Linked DNA regions of Homo sapiens: region 1 is linked to region 2. The links come from fine-mapping of genetic effects on plasma protein levels. A gene starts in region 2. The other region holds a variant in brackets. All regions are shown on one strand. Distances are between the middles of the regions. Region 1 overlaps HRG-AS1 (HRG and FETUB antisense RNA 1). Region 2 holds the start of FETUB (fetuin B).

Evidence for each region. PIP is the chance, under the fine-mapping model, that this variant and not a neighbour inherited with it causes the effect. The UK Biobank Pharma Proteomics Project read protein levels with antibody pairs (Olink). The fine-mapping took linkage between variants from a reference panel, not from the people measured, so its PIPs are less certain.
Region 1: its variant is fine-mapped to the plasma level of the FETUB protein (UK Biobank, PIP above 0.99).

Annotation. Positions count from the first base shown.
Region 1 is chr3:186,657,061-186,665,422 of GRCh38, reverse strand. All of the region lies in intron 1 of HRG-AS1 (HRG and FETUB antisense RNA 1), which reads left to right. Among named protein-coding and RNA genes, the nearest start is that of HRG-AS1, 4.4 kb to the left of the region's middle. RefSeq lists enhancers at 1,594-2,274, 7,277-7,796. The variant G/A (reference allele first, on the strand shown) is at 4,670.
Region 2 is chr3:186,636,782-186,645,143 of GRCh38, reverse strand. It overlaps FETUB (fetuin B), which reads right to left and starts at 4,745. Exons shown (of 7, transcript NM_014375.3): 1 at 4,459-4,745; 2 at 4,004-4,114; 3 at 2,586-2,673; 4 at 224-393. The coding sequence starts at 4,683. It overlaps HRG-AS1 (HRG and FETUB antisense RNA 1), which reads left to right. Exons shown (of 3, transcript NR_187317.1): 2 at 3,016-3,190; 3 at 3,521-3,635.

The DNA of each region.
Region 1 (8,362 bases), 20 kb before region 2:
AATATGGATTGATACCTCTTGGCAGGCTTGTGTGATAATTAAATAAGAAATCAGGCTGGGTGCGGTGGCTCATGCCTGTAATCCCAGCACTTTGGGAGGCCAAGGCAGGCTGATCACAAGGTCAGGAGATTGAGACCAGCCTGGCCAACATGGTGAAACCCTGTCTCTACTAAAAATACAAAAAATTAGCTGGGCATGGTGGCACATGCCTGTAATCGCCGCTACTTGGGAGGCTGAGGCAGGAGAATCACTTGAACCCGGGAGGCGGAGATTGCAGTGAGCTGAGATCGCGCCACTGCACTCCAGCTCGGGCGACAGTGTGAGATTCCATCTAAAAAAGAAAGAAAGAAAAAAAGAAAGCAACCAGTATAATTCTTGGCATAGAGTAGATGCTGAATAAGTGATGCTATTTATTATTAGTGTGCCTGCAAAGAAGTTGGGGACACCTCATGCCACCCCAATTCCCTGCAAAAAGAATTGATTCACGTGGAAGAGGATGGTGGTGAGAGTAAGAGTCAAATAGTTGGATGCCCATCCCACTGTTAGAAGGGATCAGCAGGGGGGGACTGGGCTATGATACAGCTGACCCCCTACCTTCACACTTCAGAAGAAACCCGTATACCTATATGCAACCCTCAGACCAGCAGAGCCAGCAGCATCAGAAGGGACCAGAGGGAATCAGCCTAGGTTCCGTCCTCACTGCCAAGAAACAGCCAGTTAGGCAGCATCTCCATTCCTCCCTGTTCTATCCGCAGTGAGTGTCTGTGAGAGTCTGCAGTCATGTCTCTCAGACTCGGCTTCATGTTAGAATCACCCCAGGAGCTTTAAAAAGTCCTGATGTCAAGGACTCCTCCAGGACAATTTAATCAGAATCTCTGGGAGTGGACTTTGGTATTGGTAGTTTTTAAACTCCTAGGTAATCCAGTGTGTGCAGTCAAGGTTGAGAATTACTGGGATTCTAGAGTGAACTGAAGAGAGGGAAAGGATTTGAAGACAGAAAGAAAAGGGAGGTGTATGAAAAGTAGATCTCATTTCCACAAGTCACAGGGTTAATGAGTGCAACAGGTTTTGAATAATGTTTGCAATTGAACTTTTAATGTCAGTAACCCTGGCTTTTAAATACCCAATGGGACCAGTCCAGTGCAACAGAAAATGACAGGAATGTATGGAATCTGGTCAAGGTGTTAAGAGGCTCCAACCCAGTGGGGAAGGGGAAAGCTATTGATTAAAACAAAAACTATTTTGAGTTTTTGTTATTATGAGTTGAGCTCCTTAATGAAGTTTTTCTATTATGGCTATATTGGCTGCACCCTAAATGGGGTGTCCTGGGTGAACCAAATGCTGGTGTAGGGAAAGGAATGGGAATGTTGAGGGGATGGGAAGAGGCATCAAGAACAGGAATATAATTTTCCTACAGTGCTGTTCTGCTGAGACTACAGAGTACCTCAGGGAGTCATGCATCCTCTTCCTGTTGCTTTACTGAATCTTAAAGAGTGATACAGTACTAATGATGCCATTCTAGCAACTGGAGCAGCTTCAGGGGAGAGAGCACATTAAGGGTGCTGGGATGGTAATGGTTGGGAGGAAGCTGAATGGTAGTAAGAGAGACATTCTGTCCTGAGAACTCTGATCCAGTAAGTGATATTTGGCTTTGGGGATGGTTCCTATTAGCATTATGGGAACTAGAGAGTGGCCTCAGATGGAAGTGCTGACTTTACACAGATGGTATCTTTCATGCGCGTCCGTGTGAAGAGACCACCAAACAGGCTTTGTGTGAGCAATAAAGCTTTTAATCACCTGGGTGCCGGCGGGCTGAGTCCAAAAAGACAGTCAGAGAAGGGAGATGGGGTGGGGACGTTTTATCGGATTTGGGTAGGTAAAGGAAAAAGGGGGGTTGTTCTCTGGCAGGCAGGAGTAGGGGTCACAAGGTGCTCAGTAGGGGAGCTTTTAAGCCAGGATGAGCCAGGAGAAAGAATTTCACAAGATAATGCCATCAGTTAAGGCAGGAACAGGCCATTTTCATTTCTTTTGTAGTGGAATGTCATCAGTTAAGGCAGGAACCGGCCATCTGGATGTGCATGTGCAGGTCACAGGGGATATGATGGCTTAGCTTGGGCTCAGAGGCCTGACATTCCTGTCTTCTTATATTAATAAGAAAAATAAAATGAAATAGTGGTAAAGTGTTGGGATGGCAAAAATTTTGGGGGATGGTATGGAGAGATAATGGGCGATGTTTCTCAGGGCTGCTTCGAGTGGGATTAGGGGCGGCGTGGGAACCTAGAGTGGGAGAGATTAAGCTGAAGGAAGATTTTGTGGTAAGGGGTGATATTGTGGGACTGTTAGAGGAAACATTTGTCATTTAGAATTATTGATGATTGCCTGGATATGGTTTTGTATGAACTGAGAAACTAAATGGAATAAGAGAAGGAGAAAAACAGGTATTAAAGGTCTAAGAATTGGGAAGACCTAGGACATCTAATTAGAGTGCCTAAGGAGATTCAGCGTAGTCCTGCCAGCAAAGATTATTTATTTACTTCAAGAATGGCAGTTTGGGGATACCACCAGGAGATATCAGCTGTGATGGCTTGGAGAAACAGTGTAAACTGGCAGTGTAAACAAGAGCAGGACATGTATGAGTAGTTGAGAACAGTGAATAGGAGTATGACTAGAGAGAAGATAGTAGGGATGACAAGTTTTTTGGGGCACAGTCTAAGTTGGTCTGGTGTCTGGAATGAGACTGGGGCTTAATAAAAAGGAGCCTCTATACAGGAGCTCAAATGGGCTGTACCTTGTAGCATTCTGAGGACAGGCCTGACTTCTGAGAAAAGAAAGAGGTAAAAGTTTTTCTAGCCCTTTTTAAGTTGGTGGCTGAGGTTTTAAAAGACAATTAGTCCATTCTACTTTTCCTGAAGACTGAGGACTGTAAGGGATATAAAGGTTTCATTGAATACTAAGAGCCTGAAAAACTGCTTGGCTGATTTGACTAATAAAGGCCGGTCTGCTATCGGACTGTATAGAGGTGGGAAGGCCAAACCGAGTAATTGTGTCTGACAGAAGGGAAGAAATGACTGTGTTGGCCTTCTTAGACCCTGTGGGAAAGGCCTCTACCTATCCAGTGAAAGTGTCTACCTAGACCAAGAGGTATTTTAGTTATCTGACTCGGGGCATGTTGAGTAAAGCTAATTTGCCAGTCCTGGGTGGGGGCAAATCTCTGAGCTTGATGTGTAGGGAAGGGAGGGGGCCTGAATAATCCCTGAGGAGTAGTAGAATAGCAGATGGAACACTGAGAAGTTATTTCCTTGAGGATACATTTCCACGATGGAAAGGAAATGAGAGGTTCTAAGAGGCGGGCTAGTGGCTTGTACCATAGCATAGCCTGCCTTTGCTGGTGTGTGGCGATTAGGCCTGGTGGAACTGCCATCAATAAATCAAGCGTGATCAGGGTGAGGAACAGGAAAGGAGAAAATATGGGGAAATGGGGTGAATGTCAGGTGGATCAGAGAGATACAGTCATGGGGGTCAGGTGTGGTATCAGGAATAATGTGGGAGGCCGGATTGACGTCCGGGCCAGGAACAATGGTAATTGTGGGACTTAACAAAGAACGAGTACAGCTGAAGGAGCCGGGGAACAGAAAGCATATGCGTCAGGTATGAGGAAGAAAATCGGTTTTGGAAGTTACGAGAAATGTAGAGAGTGAGTTGAGCATAGTTTGTGATTTTTAGGGCCTCTAAAAGTATTAAAGCAGCGGCAGCTGCTGCATGCAGACAGGAGGGCTAGGCTAAAACAGTAAGGTCAAGTTGTTTGGACAGAAAGGCTACAGGGTGCGGTCCCGGCTCTTGTGTAAGAATTCTGACCGAACTAACCATGCCTAGGAAGGAAAGGAGTTGTTGTTTTGTAAGGGATTGAGGTTTGGGAGATTAATCGGTCACGATCAGCAGGGAAAGCATGTGTGTTTTTATGAGAATTATGCCGAGATAGGTAAGAGATGAGGATGAAATTTGGGCTTGATTGAACTAATGCGGGCTGTCTGTGAAGCCTTGCGGCAGTACAGCCCAGGTGATTTGCTGAGCCTAATGGGTGTCAGGGTTAGTCTAAGTGAAAACAAAGAGAGGCTGGGATGAAGGGTGCAAAGGAATAGTAAAGAAAGCATGTTTGAGATCCAGAACAGAATAATGGATTGTAGAGGGAGGTATTGAGGATAGGAGAGTATATGGGTTTAGCACCATGGGGTGGCTAGGCAAAACAATTTGGTTGATAAGGCGCAGATTCTGAACTAACCTGTAAGCCTTGTCTGGTTTTAGGACAGGTAAAATGGGGGAATGGTAAGAAGAGTTTATAGGCTTTAAAAGGCCTTGCTGTAACAGGCGAGTGATAACAGGCTTTAATCTTTTCAAAGCATGCTGCGGGATGGGATATTGGCATTGATTGGGGTAAGGGTGATTAGGTTTTAATGGGATGGTAAGGGGTGCATGATCGGTCGCTAAGGAGGGAGTAGAGGTGTCTTATACTTATGGGTTACGGTGGGGAGATACAAGGGGAGGATGTGAAGGAGGCTTTGAACTGGGGGAAAAGGCGGCAATGAGGTGTGGCTGTAGCCCAGGAATAGTCAGGGAAGCAGATAATTTAGTTAAAGTGTCTCGGCCTAATAAGGGAACTGGGCAGGTGGGG[G/A]TAACTAAAAGGAGTGATTAAAAGAGTACTGTCTAAGTTGGCACCAGAGTTGGGGAGTTTTAAGAGGTTTAGAAGCCTGGCTGCCAATACCTACAACAGTTATGAAGGCAAAGGAAACAGGCCTTTGGAAAGAAGGTAATGTGGAGTGGGTAGCCTCCGTATTGATTAAGACGGGGACGGACTTACTTTCTACTCTGAGAGTTACTTCAAGCTTGGCGTCCGTGATGGCCTACGGGGCTTCCAAGGCGATCGGGCAGCGTCAGTCTTCAGCTGCTAAGCTGAGAAAATGTGAGAAGGAGTCAGTCAGAGAGCCTTGGGCCGGAGTTCCAGGGGCTCTGGGAGTGGCTGCCAGGTGAGTTGAAGAGTCTGATTTTCAGTGGAGTCCTACACAGATGGGATACGGCTGAGGAGGAATCCTGGGCTGTGGGCATTCCTTGGCCTAGTGGCTAGATTTCTGGCACTTGAAGCAAGATCCTGATGCAGGAAGTCCTGTAGGAATGCTTGACTGCTGCGGCTTAGGCGTGTGCGGCTGAGGCATTTTGAAGTTCTCCTATGCTGGAGGTGTGGCTGGGTCTCGTCTCACAGCAGAGGCAAGTAATTGTAACTCAGAAACGCGTTGCCGTCTGGATGCTTCTTCTCTATTATTGTACACCTTGAAGGCAAGATTGATTAATTCCTGTTGTGGGGTTTGAGGGCTAGATTCTAATTTTTGAAGTTTTTTCTTAATGTCAGGAGTGGATTGGATGATAAAATGCATGTTAAGAATAAGGCGGCCTTCTGGCCCTTCTGGGTCTAGGGCGGTATAGCGTCCAAAGGTTGCTGCTAAGCCGGCCATGAACTGGGCTGGGTTTTCGTCTCTACCTTGGGTAGTCTCTTCAAGCTTGTCATAATTAACAGCTTTGTAAGCTGCCTTTTTAAGCCTTTCAAGTAGGCAGGAATCATGTAATCTCACCTAGCTATACCTGGGGAATTTGTCTGATAGTTCCATTGGGGATCTTCTCGGGGAACTGCTCTAATGCCTTCCTGGAGGTCTGGCTCGTGAAGCCGGCGGTTATCAGCGTGAGATTGGGCTAGAGAAAAAACTCTTTCCCGTTCATCTGGGGAGAGGGTAGAAGTTAGGATGACATTTCAGTCACTCCAGGTTAACTTGTAGGACAGAGTTAGATATCAGAATTCCTGTATACATTTAGTGGGGTCTGATGAGAAAGAGCCTAAACACTGACTGATCTGAGAGAGGCGTGATAGAGAAAAAGGTACATGTACCCTGACTATGCCTTCAGCTCTAGCCACCTCTCTAAGAGGAAACTGTTGGGCAGGTGGGGAAGAACTAGTCACAGAACTAAACTGTATGCCGGAACGGCTGTGAGGAGGGGAGATGGTAGAAGGATTATAGGGTGGAGGAGCAGAGGCTGAGGAAGAATTGGGACTTAGCTCGGCCTGGTGACAAGCAGCCTGGGGAGGAGGGGAAAGGTCAGATGGGTCTGTAGAAAAGGAAGACTGGAAAGACTCAGCAACGCTTGGGGTTGGGACTGAGGGGACAGGCGGGAGGGAAAGAAGGAAGATTTGGGACGAGTTGCATTGGGAACAGAGACCAGGGAGGGACCGATATGTAAAAGAATGCCTGGACATCAGGCACCTCAGACCGTTTGCCTATTTTACGACAAGAATTATTTAGATCTTATAGGATGGAAAAATTGAAAGTGTTGTTTTCTGGCTATTTGGAAGTACTGTCGAGTTTGTATTGGGGTCAAGCGGCATTGCAGAAGAAAATAAGACGCTTAGATTTTAGGTCAGGTGAGAGTTGAAGAGGTTTTAAGCTCTTGAGAACACAGGCTAAGGAAGAAGAAGGAGGAATGGAAGGTGGAAGCTTGCCCATAGTGAAGGAGGCAAGCCCAGAGAAAAGAGAGTAGAGACATGGAGAAGGGTTGGGGGGTTCTTGCCCTCCAGAAAAGCAGAGAAGGGGTCAGGGCACGGAAATAAGGGGTTGAGGCGCAGAGATAAGAGGTCGGGGCACGGAAATAAGGGATCGGGGCACAGAAATAAGAGGTTGGGGCATGGAAATAAGGGATCGGGGTGCAGAGATAAGAGGTCGGGGTTCCTGCCCCTCCCCTAGAAAAGCGGGACTTGCCGCTAAGGGTGAAAGACCAAGGCAGGTGTCCTTGCGTGGTCTGACACCTCTGAAACCTGAGTGAATAATCAGAGAGGCATCCCCACAATGATTAAACACCAAGGGAAGGCTGCCTTTCTTAGTCCACGACCGGCATTGGAGTTTTGGGTCCATGGATAAAACATGTCTCCTTTGTCTCTACCAGAAAATGAAAGGAATTGAAATTAAGAGAAGGGAGAGATTGAAGTGTGGCACCAAGATTGAACAGAGAAAGAGGTTGAGGGATAGTGAGGGAGGTTGGAGAAGAGTGTAAAAAGAGGCTGTTCACGGGATTTGAAATTGGTGAGATGTTTCTTGGGCTGGTCAGCCTGAGGACCTGAGATCGTAGGTGGATCTTTCTCACGGAGCAAAGAACAGGAGGACTAGGGATTGATCTCCCAAGGGAGTTCCCCTGATCCGAGTCACGGCAGCAAATTTCATGTGTGTCCGTGTGAAGAGACCACCAAACAGGCTTTGTCTGAGCAATAAATCTTTTAATCACCTGGGTGCAGGTGGGCTGAGTCCAAAAAGAGTCAGTGAAGGGAGATGGGGTGGGGCCATTTTATAGGATTTAGGTACGTAAAGGAAAAAGAGGGGTTGTTCTCTGGCAGGCAGGAGTAGGGGTCACAAGGTGCTCAGTAGGGGAGCTTTTGAGCCAAGATGAGCCAGGAGAAGGAATTTCACAAGATAATGCTATCAGTTAAGGCAGGAACAGGCCATTTTCATTTCTTTTGTAGTGGAATGTCATCAGTTAAGCCAGGAACCGGCCATCTGGATGTGTATGTGCAGGTCTCAGGGGATATGATGGCTTAGCTTAGGCTCAGAGGCCTGACACTATCTGGGCAGACTGGGCAGGTAGAATCTTCATCTTTACCTTTTCTTTTCTTTCTTTTTTTTTTTTTGAGACAAAGTCTCACCTGCTCTGTTGCCTAGGTTGTTGTATAGTGGTGCCATCTCAGCTCACTGCTGTAACCTCCACCTCCCAGTTTCAAGCAATTCTTCTGTCTCATCCTCCTGAGTACTGGGACTACAGGTGCCCACCACCACGCCTGGCTAAAATTTGTACTTTTAGTAGAGACAAGGTTTCACCATATTGGTCAGGCTGATCTCGAACCCCTGACCTCAGGTGATCCACCCGCCTCAGCCTCCCATAGTGGTGTGATTATAGGAATGAGCCACTGCGCCCTGCCGTCTTCACATTTTCATTCTGCATTTAGGTTATTTCTGTGTGTCCTGACCATTGTATCAGAAAAAAGAGTTAGCTAACAGAATTTTTATTCTTTAAACCTTTTTGACTCATAATAGAACACATGCTTTTTGCAAAAAATATGGAAAATACGAAAAGCATAAAGAAAATTCACCTCTAATTCTACAACCATAAGGAAAACCAACTATTTATAATGCATAATTGCTTCATACACTTTTTGCTATTTGAATATATGTAATATATATGTTTTGCATCATTAGAATTATTCTGTACATACAGGTGTTTCTTTCCCTCCACTGTAGTTGAGCATGTATTTACTTATAACCTCTATTTTTTTCAG
Region 2 (8,362 bases):
GAAGCAAAATCAAGCCGCCTGACTCTTGTAGAAATGCCATGGAATCACTTAGAAAGTGAAACATGATAGAATGGGCATCAGGTCTATCAAAGTGGGGAAAGTAGAGAAAGGTATTTTGGTTCTAATCAAAATGAGTGCCTTGACATTTTCCTCCCAGCTTAGGAACCTACAGCAACAGTTATGAGACACACTGTGTAACTGGCTTGGGCAGTTTTAGCCTTACCTGGCTAGAAGCCCTGGTGACTTTGAAGAGAGAATACTGCTTGGATGTGTTCTCATTGTTGTATTTCGCAAGAGACTCGGTGGCAGCCTCCAGCACTTGGTGATTGGAAGAGTCAGTGGGTATGGAGCTTGGGCAGTCAGGGCACGTCATGTAAATCTTTTTTTTTGAAACTGTTGATGCCAATAACATAAGTTTTTAAATGCTATTAATTTTCAATAAATCATATGACTGTAAAGAGGCAAGGATGGGGTGAGGAAGTTACCTCTGGAATATACCCCTGGAATAGAAGTTAGCTGTCAGCAGTGTTTTCTGTAATGACCATGTATTACTTTCACAATTAAAAAAGAGACCAGAACAAAGCAAAGTTTTCACCTCACACACATTTACTCTGAGAATTTTGTTCAAAGACACATAATATAGTATATTAAAATAGGACCTTTTCCTCCAACTAGTTCACTATCTTTTCTCATTATTGACCCTGTAAAGTAGACTGTCTTCAGAGATTGGGATTTCATTACCGCAATATCTTATTTACCTTTCAGTTCCTAACACCGAACATCATATCTGATACATAGGCAGTGCTTAGTAAATGCTTGTAGAATGAATGGATAAGTGAATGGCATAGTAGAAGGCAGAAGCGCACCCCGTTTGGTTAGAAATGCAAGTGAGATCTGTCAAAGGATACAAAATTACAGCTAGATAGGGGGATAAATTCTAGTGTTCTGGACCACTGTAGGATGACTACAGTTAACAATAAGATAAAATTTCAAATAGCTAGAAGGGTATTGAATGTTCCCGACACAAGGAAGTGATAAAGGTTTGAGATGATGGATATACTAATAACCTAATCCGATCACAATACAGTATATATATGGAAATATCACTATATATGCCATAAATAGGTATAACTATTATTTATCAATAAAAAATAAGACTAAATATTTTTTTAAGAAGAAAAATGCAAGTGAGCCAGAAAACAAAATGGGTCAAGTCACTGTGTGACTGAGTAGAATGATCACATTAAGTACAGTCAGATTTCTGTTTGGGAGGAGCTGAGGTCAATAAGCCTAGTGTGAAAGTCAAGGTACAGAATTTATCTTGAAGCTGCTTTTGCAGAGCAAACACATTGTTTTTAGAAATTTTGTGTTTATCTGCATGCACTTGGGGACTGGTGGAGATAATGGGGGACTTCCAGCTACAGCTTGTCACTCCTGAATCATCACCACCTGTCACTTCCTGACCTCCCATAGCTCTGATACTTATGACTTCCATTTAAGTCCTGAGACTGTTTACTACTTGCTGTTCTGTGAATCTTGCCTTCACAACCAGGAACCTTAAACTGTGCCTAACAAAATGTTTGCTCGCTTGCCTTGTTATTCAAAGCAACCAGCAGCATTCTTATCTCCTGGAGCTTATTAGAGATGCAGGATCTCAGGTCCTGACCAAGACCTGTGGAATCAGAATCTACACTTGCACAGGATCCACCAGGGGAGCGACACGCACGTAGTTGTTCGACAGGGGACCAAATTCTGTTTTCCTGCACTGTGGATGCTCTCTTTCCAAAGACCTTCCCTTGAAAAAAGGAAGGTCCCAAATGAATGCATGTGCATATTTCAAGTGTCATTAAGTTTCAGCCTCATTTCTAGTCCAATTATTTACTTAACAACATTATTGACACCTTCTACTTGGTGGGAACTGAGGAAGGGTGCAGCAGGAGGAGGAAAGGAGAAACTATTCTACATGATGTAAGATATGCGACCCTCAAATCAAGGCAGTGCATTATGTGTTCCCTGAGTAGTTTAGACAAAATTTTATAGGAATGCAGATTACAAAAGCACCATTCCTTTCTAGAATAGAGAACACTGTGGAAGAAGTGGTGTTGGTCCTTAAAGAATAGGTGTGTCCCAAGGTCAGAGGTCATCAGGGGAGGGCATGCTCAGCAGAGGGAGAGGCACAAGCAAGACACAGAGACTGGAAATTGCAGTGCATGTTCAGAAAACAGGGTGGCATCCAGTAGAATGGAGTGAAGAGTTGGTGTAGTCTGGGAAATAATGGCAGAGATAGCAAGAAAGGAAGCCTGAGGGAACAGTCATAGAAATTATACCATTTATGTCAGACTGAAAATGTAAGATCTGATGCAGCATATAAATGTAGAGGTAGTTTAGTAAGATTAATTGTGGGAAGAGGAGCAGTATAGTATGAATTTCAGTAAGGAGGTAAGTACTGGAAATATTAAGAAACTGGCATTAAGAATAAACAGAAAATAAGAATGAGAGATACCCTATACATTCTTGGCAAAGACCTGGTTAAGTACTCTTTTCCATCCTTTATTAAAACTAACAAAATCGTAGTGATTTCTTACCTGGGCGAAGAGTACAGTTATAAGCAGCTAAATAGAGAACTCTACTTGGGTTGTTCATATAAAATATTGCTTTGCATTGACCATAAACCTGAAACCAACAAATGCATTTTATGACATAGCGAATGCAACTATGAGCTTTTAAAATACCTCCAAAATTAAAGTCAGACATTTTCTTTTAAAGTAGTTAGAAACTTAAGATCAAATTCTGTGGTTTTGGCTGGGAGGAACTGCAGTTGATGATCAAACTGTTTAACCTTTCCCTAGGACACAGCTAGAATATGTTTCCAAGCCTCCCCAACACGTGTGACTGTGTATAATTGAGTTCTAACCACAGGAAGGTGAGCAGAAGTGAGGTGTAACCATTTCCAGATCTGGCTCATAAGGGTCTCCCACGTTCTCACTGTCCTCTATGCTCTTTCTCTGTGCACAGCTTGATGCAGATGAGCAGGTAACCATGGAAGTCGTGAGCTGAGGCTGCAGAGTCTAGAGCCAGAGTGTGGAATAAACTTGGGTCTCAAATCACCCCTGGAGCAAAGCACCCATCTAATCAGGAACTTCTACTTTCAACTTTACATGCGTGAGAAATGAACTTCTATCATGTTAGAGTGAGTATACAGTTTTTGTGTCTGTGTTTTAGTAGCTAGTGTCACCATAACAAATATAATTCACAACAGGATATTCACTTTTCAAAATCAAGTTGGGTACAGTTTGACCAATTGGCTACATGATTAGGAAAATATCTTGATCAAATAGTTTTCTTCTAAACACTTACATCACTATTCTGTACTCACACTGTAAAGTTTTATATCAATTACTGAAAATCATCCCAGGATAATTAAGAATGAAATGAAATGGATTATCTATTTTCAAGTCTCTTCTATGATCATCTTTAGAAGATTAATTCTGAGGCCCTTTATTATGCTCTGTGGTTTCAGGAAATCCTTACACGGCGCCCTTGAGAGCTTTCATACTGCAAGTCATCCATTTTCCTCCCCTCAAACCTGGCATCGGAGTTTATTGAAACAAAGCAAAATAAAACAAATAGACAAAGCTCTACCTCCATCACTTCTGCAGTCTACATTAACCCCACGTCCAGAATATTCACACCTCAGGTCTTTTTCTCACAATTGAAACACTGGTTCAGAGCCTAACGGAAGGTCTTGGAGGTAAAAACACAACTTGGGGCAACTTTTCCATTCTGTTCTGCATGACCCCAATGGGACTTCTCAGAAACCCCTCTCATGAATTAAACTTTGTTCTGTCTAGAGCATTAGAATAAGCTTATGGGCACCTGCCAGGAGATTATAAAGTGGGCCATTTAAAAGATGACAGATATTGAGCACCCTTGACCCTGTAGAAAGAGTGTACCTACTTGCTTTCCCTAGGGCCCTTAATGGTTTATAAAAACAAGCACTCACTGATTCAAAAAATATCCTCATTCCACAGTCTTGCCATGCCTTCTTTCTGAGCACATGGCAGTCAGTCTCTAGCACATCCAGTGTAAGATAGAACAGAGATCCCAGGCCACCCTGTGGGAAGGGGTAGAGAAATGCAATACATTTCACAGGAAGTAGAAACCTAGAAAGACCACACAAAAAAACCCCTGCTTTATGGCAAAGCCAAAGAATATTTGTGAAGATTCCCCGTAAACCATTAAATCTGACACAAGTGTCAGAGTAGGATCACTGTTAACACTTGTTTTTACTAACAATAAGTGCGTTGTTGCTGACCCTGGCAGAGGAGAACAGAGAGTTCTCGGCAGGGCTTCCAATACAGAAAACACCTGCCAGGGTGTCTCTGGGTTCCCTCACCCTGGCCAGTCTCTCCAGCTTGCCCACATCCCTGCCCCAGAGTGGGAACTGTCCCTACTTGCCCGTCTGTATTCCTGGGCGTCGTTCACTCGGTTGAGTCTCAGCACATAGCCATCCTTTCTGTCTTTGTTAATATCCCGCAGGGCAAAGCCTGCAACTGCCAGCACATCTGAGTCATTGCAGCCCCGGGAGAGCAGAGCCGAGGGGTTGAGGGCCAGCTGGGGTGGAGACATTGCTCCGCAGCACAGGACTAGGATGCAGAGTGCCAGGGGAAGGAGCAGACCCATTCTGTGGAGAACAAGGCCCAGGATGGGTCAGTTTGTGGAGCTGCAGGGACTGGCTGGCTTGTAAGGCTCTTTAAGGCAGACTTGAGCGGTTTTGTTACAACTGGAAGGGCTAACCAAGTTCACCTTGAATTCTGAACTTGGATTTTCCTAAGTCAGTACTTTGGATAGCATTTCCCAATGATTCTAACCTTAGACCCTTGAGCAACCTCATATCCACCTGTACATACAAATGAATTTAAGTTTCCCAACTGTTTCCTGAGAAATCATAACATTTGTTCAAGGCTCTTATGATTAGATTCTGATTTGCAGGTCCCCTCCTGAATAGGAATATGGAGGACTGTCCCATTCTCCCCCTCTCCCCTAACACCTTTGCTGTGGAGGTCTCCTTGGCCACTCTAATAGTTATCTTATGTCCCAGTGGTGCTTGGTGAATTCAGACTTCCTGGCTGACACTCTGTGTGCAAAGCCCTTGTTAGATCAGGGAGGTAGTTGAACCCCACAGTCATCTGCCAGAAGCACAGTTGAGATTCCTTAAGCACTTTGGCCATCTGGGTGGAAAATGTTCTACTTATCATCATTTAAGTTATTTTTAAACAATGACTTTACTTAAGGGGAAAAAGTCAAAGAGATATAAAAAGTTCTCACATTGTATTTCAAGCCTATTCTTCCTTTTATGCATATGTATGGAAGCAAGCTCATTAAGAGACTAAAGCCCCATACTCTTGCTAAAAGAAAGATACTGAAGGGCAGGTGGGTGGCAACACATTGGTTGGGACTCTTGCCTTCTTTTTTTTTTTTTTTTTTTAGCTTCTATTTGTGATTCAGAAAGGTTCTACTTATTGGGACCATACAAAAGACAATTATCTTTTAAAAACTGTATTTCAACAAAAAACACATATCAGCAGTAGTTTGTCATGAGAGAAAAGAGACAAAATGGGAAAGAAGCCTCTAGAAGAGGTTATCATGAAGGGCATTCTATAAAGCCCTAGTCCATGAGGTGAGTAACCACCCCCTAACTCTCTCCCTACTCCTAGCCCTTCTCTTCCTTCCTGTCCCTGTCCAAGGATTCTGCATTCAAATAAGTTTAGGAACTGCTGAATCCTTCTGTGTGCTTGCTGGTACACAGTGGTGGCTATTGTGTAATGCTGAGAGGATTATCCTATCCTGATGAGGGCTCCACCCTCATGAATGGAATATGCCATTATCTTGAAAGTGAGTTCCTGATAAAAGGATGTGTTTGGTCCCCTTCTCTCTTCCTTTCACCTGTGTGATGCCTTCCACCATGTTATGATGTAGCATGAAGGCTCTCAGCAGGTATAGCCCCTCGATCTTAGACTTCCCAGCCCCCCAAACCATGAGCCAAAGTAATTTCTGTTCATTATAAATTCCCTGGTCTCTGATATTCTGTTATAACTACATAAAACTAACTGAGGCACAGCCCTAATTAATTTCTGGAGAGAAATAGTTTTTGAGGATTGATTGAAAAACCCAAATCTAAAGATCCCAGCTCTGTGGATGTGGGCTGTAGGCATTGTTTTCAAATAGGAACGATACTAGCAAAATGGGTACAGAAACCAGACATTCAGATTCTGGGGCACAACAAAGGTTTAGCTTCAGCCAGTGAGGAGACAAACATTCATTGAGCTTGAGCAACGTACAGAAAGAGGTTGAGAAGGATCTGGGGCCTGAGGATGCAGAACAAAGAGGAGGAGAATGGTCTGGGACCTGAGGAATATATTAGACTTATATAGGTGAAGGCCATGAGTGCAACTAAAATAAAAGGCAGGACTCAAACAGATAAAAAGATCCAATAACATGGAAATCGTGCACCACCACTTATGCACCTGGGTTTCAACCCAGTCTCAAACAACCTGAGCTGGCCTTCTCCTAGGCTGTGGAGTATGGGAGCCCTGGGAGAGGAAGCAGGGGAAGAGTCCAGCCTTTGGTGTCAGGCAGTCTTGGGTTTAAATTCCACCTCTTCCACTGCACGGTAAGAGGGCCTGTGACACTGGGTGTGCCACACAGCATTTTGTTTCCTTATTCATAAAACAATGGCACTCCCAGCATATGTATACATGCACAGTTGCACCTGCCTGTAGAAAGAGAATAGAGTTCCTCTTTCCCTAGAAGCCCAACCCAGGTACACTTGTGTTTGGTTCCCATCACATATGGGAACAACTTTAGTATCAGCATGGAAGTTAAATTTCTGCTCAGGAGTGAAGAACAAGGCTGTGGAGATAGATCAATCTAGGTTTTGTTGAATCCAGTGTGTCTAATAGAAATACAATGCAAGTTACATATTTAATTTTAAAATTTCTGGTATCTGCATTCGAAAAGTAAAAAGAAACAGATGATATTAATTTTAACAATATTTTGCTTAACCTGTCAATCCAAAATATTATAATTTCAATATGTGATTAACATAAAAATTATGAAAGGCACAGTTTACATTCTTTGTTTCACACTATGGCATACCCCAATTTGGAGTAGCCACAGTTAAGACGCTCAAGAGTTGCATGTGGGTACCTTATCAGACAGCCCAGGTCTAGCTCTTGGGAGCCTCAGGCTCCTCCCATGTAAAAGGAAGGTAGCAGGATTCTCCATCTCCTGAGGTTGCAATATGGACTTATCACAGGGGAAGTATGCAAAGGTGCTTAGCACAGCCCTGGTGCACAGGACGTCCAGAGACAATGTCCAAGGACAGCTGTCAGTGCTGTGACTGTACCCTGTGGTCCTCACTTTGTCTCCCACGGTGCAGATTCTTATGTGACTCTGCCAGTGGCCTTTTTCTGGTTACACTTGAATGGATGCATCGCCAGGTGAACCAGGTTGGGAGAAACAAGGCTGATTTTCCCTGAGTGAGGAGGGAGAGGCAGGGGGCTCCCTGGCCTGCCCACCTCCTGACACAGGTGTGATCCAGGGCAGTGACTTAGGATTATTGATTTGAGAACAGGGAGAGATCAGACAGGTGAGACATTGTTGGCTGCAGAGCTGAGAGAGACACAGCACACGTGATTAGGCATCTGGGGAATTAGAAATCTAGGTACCAAGTCTTGGCCTAAGGGGACAGGATGTGTACTTAGCAAAACTGGACGGCAGCCATGGCTCCAAAATACCAGGTGGGAGCTGCCTGGTACATGATGGTCTCTACAGCTAGTTGCTGTGTTTCTCTCTCTCTTCCCTTTCCTCCCTTTATCTTTTCTTCCTTCCACAAACACTGAATGAACATCTCCTCCAACCACTGCCAAAGCCCGGCACTATATATGAAACTGATATTTCTCAGTGTGTGCCCAGCCCTGTGCTAAACACTCTGTGTTCCTTCTCTCATGTAAGCCCATGACCAACCGAGGCCTGTAGGTGCCACTATTATTCCCATTGTACAGATAAGGAGGCTGAGGAACAGAAAGGTTACATTGCCTGCCTGAGGTCTTACAGCCAGGGTTTGCATCCAACCTATGTGGCTTCAGAGAAGAAGGCATGGTTCTTGCCCTCAAGGAGTGGATGCTAGGAACGCACCAAGGGGAGAAACTAGTTCTACTGGGGAAGTCAAGACAGGCTTCCTAGAGGGGGTAACATTCACTCTGGAGCTTGAAGGAAGAACAGAGTATGCCTGAGGCACAAGGCAGGGAGCGTATTTAACAGAGCGTTCACTTTTCCTGCAGGAGCTGTAAAGGCGAAA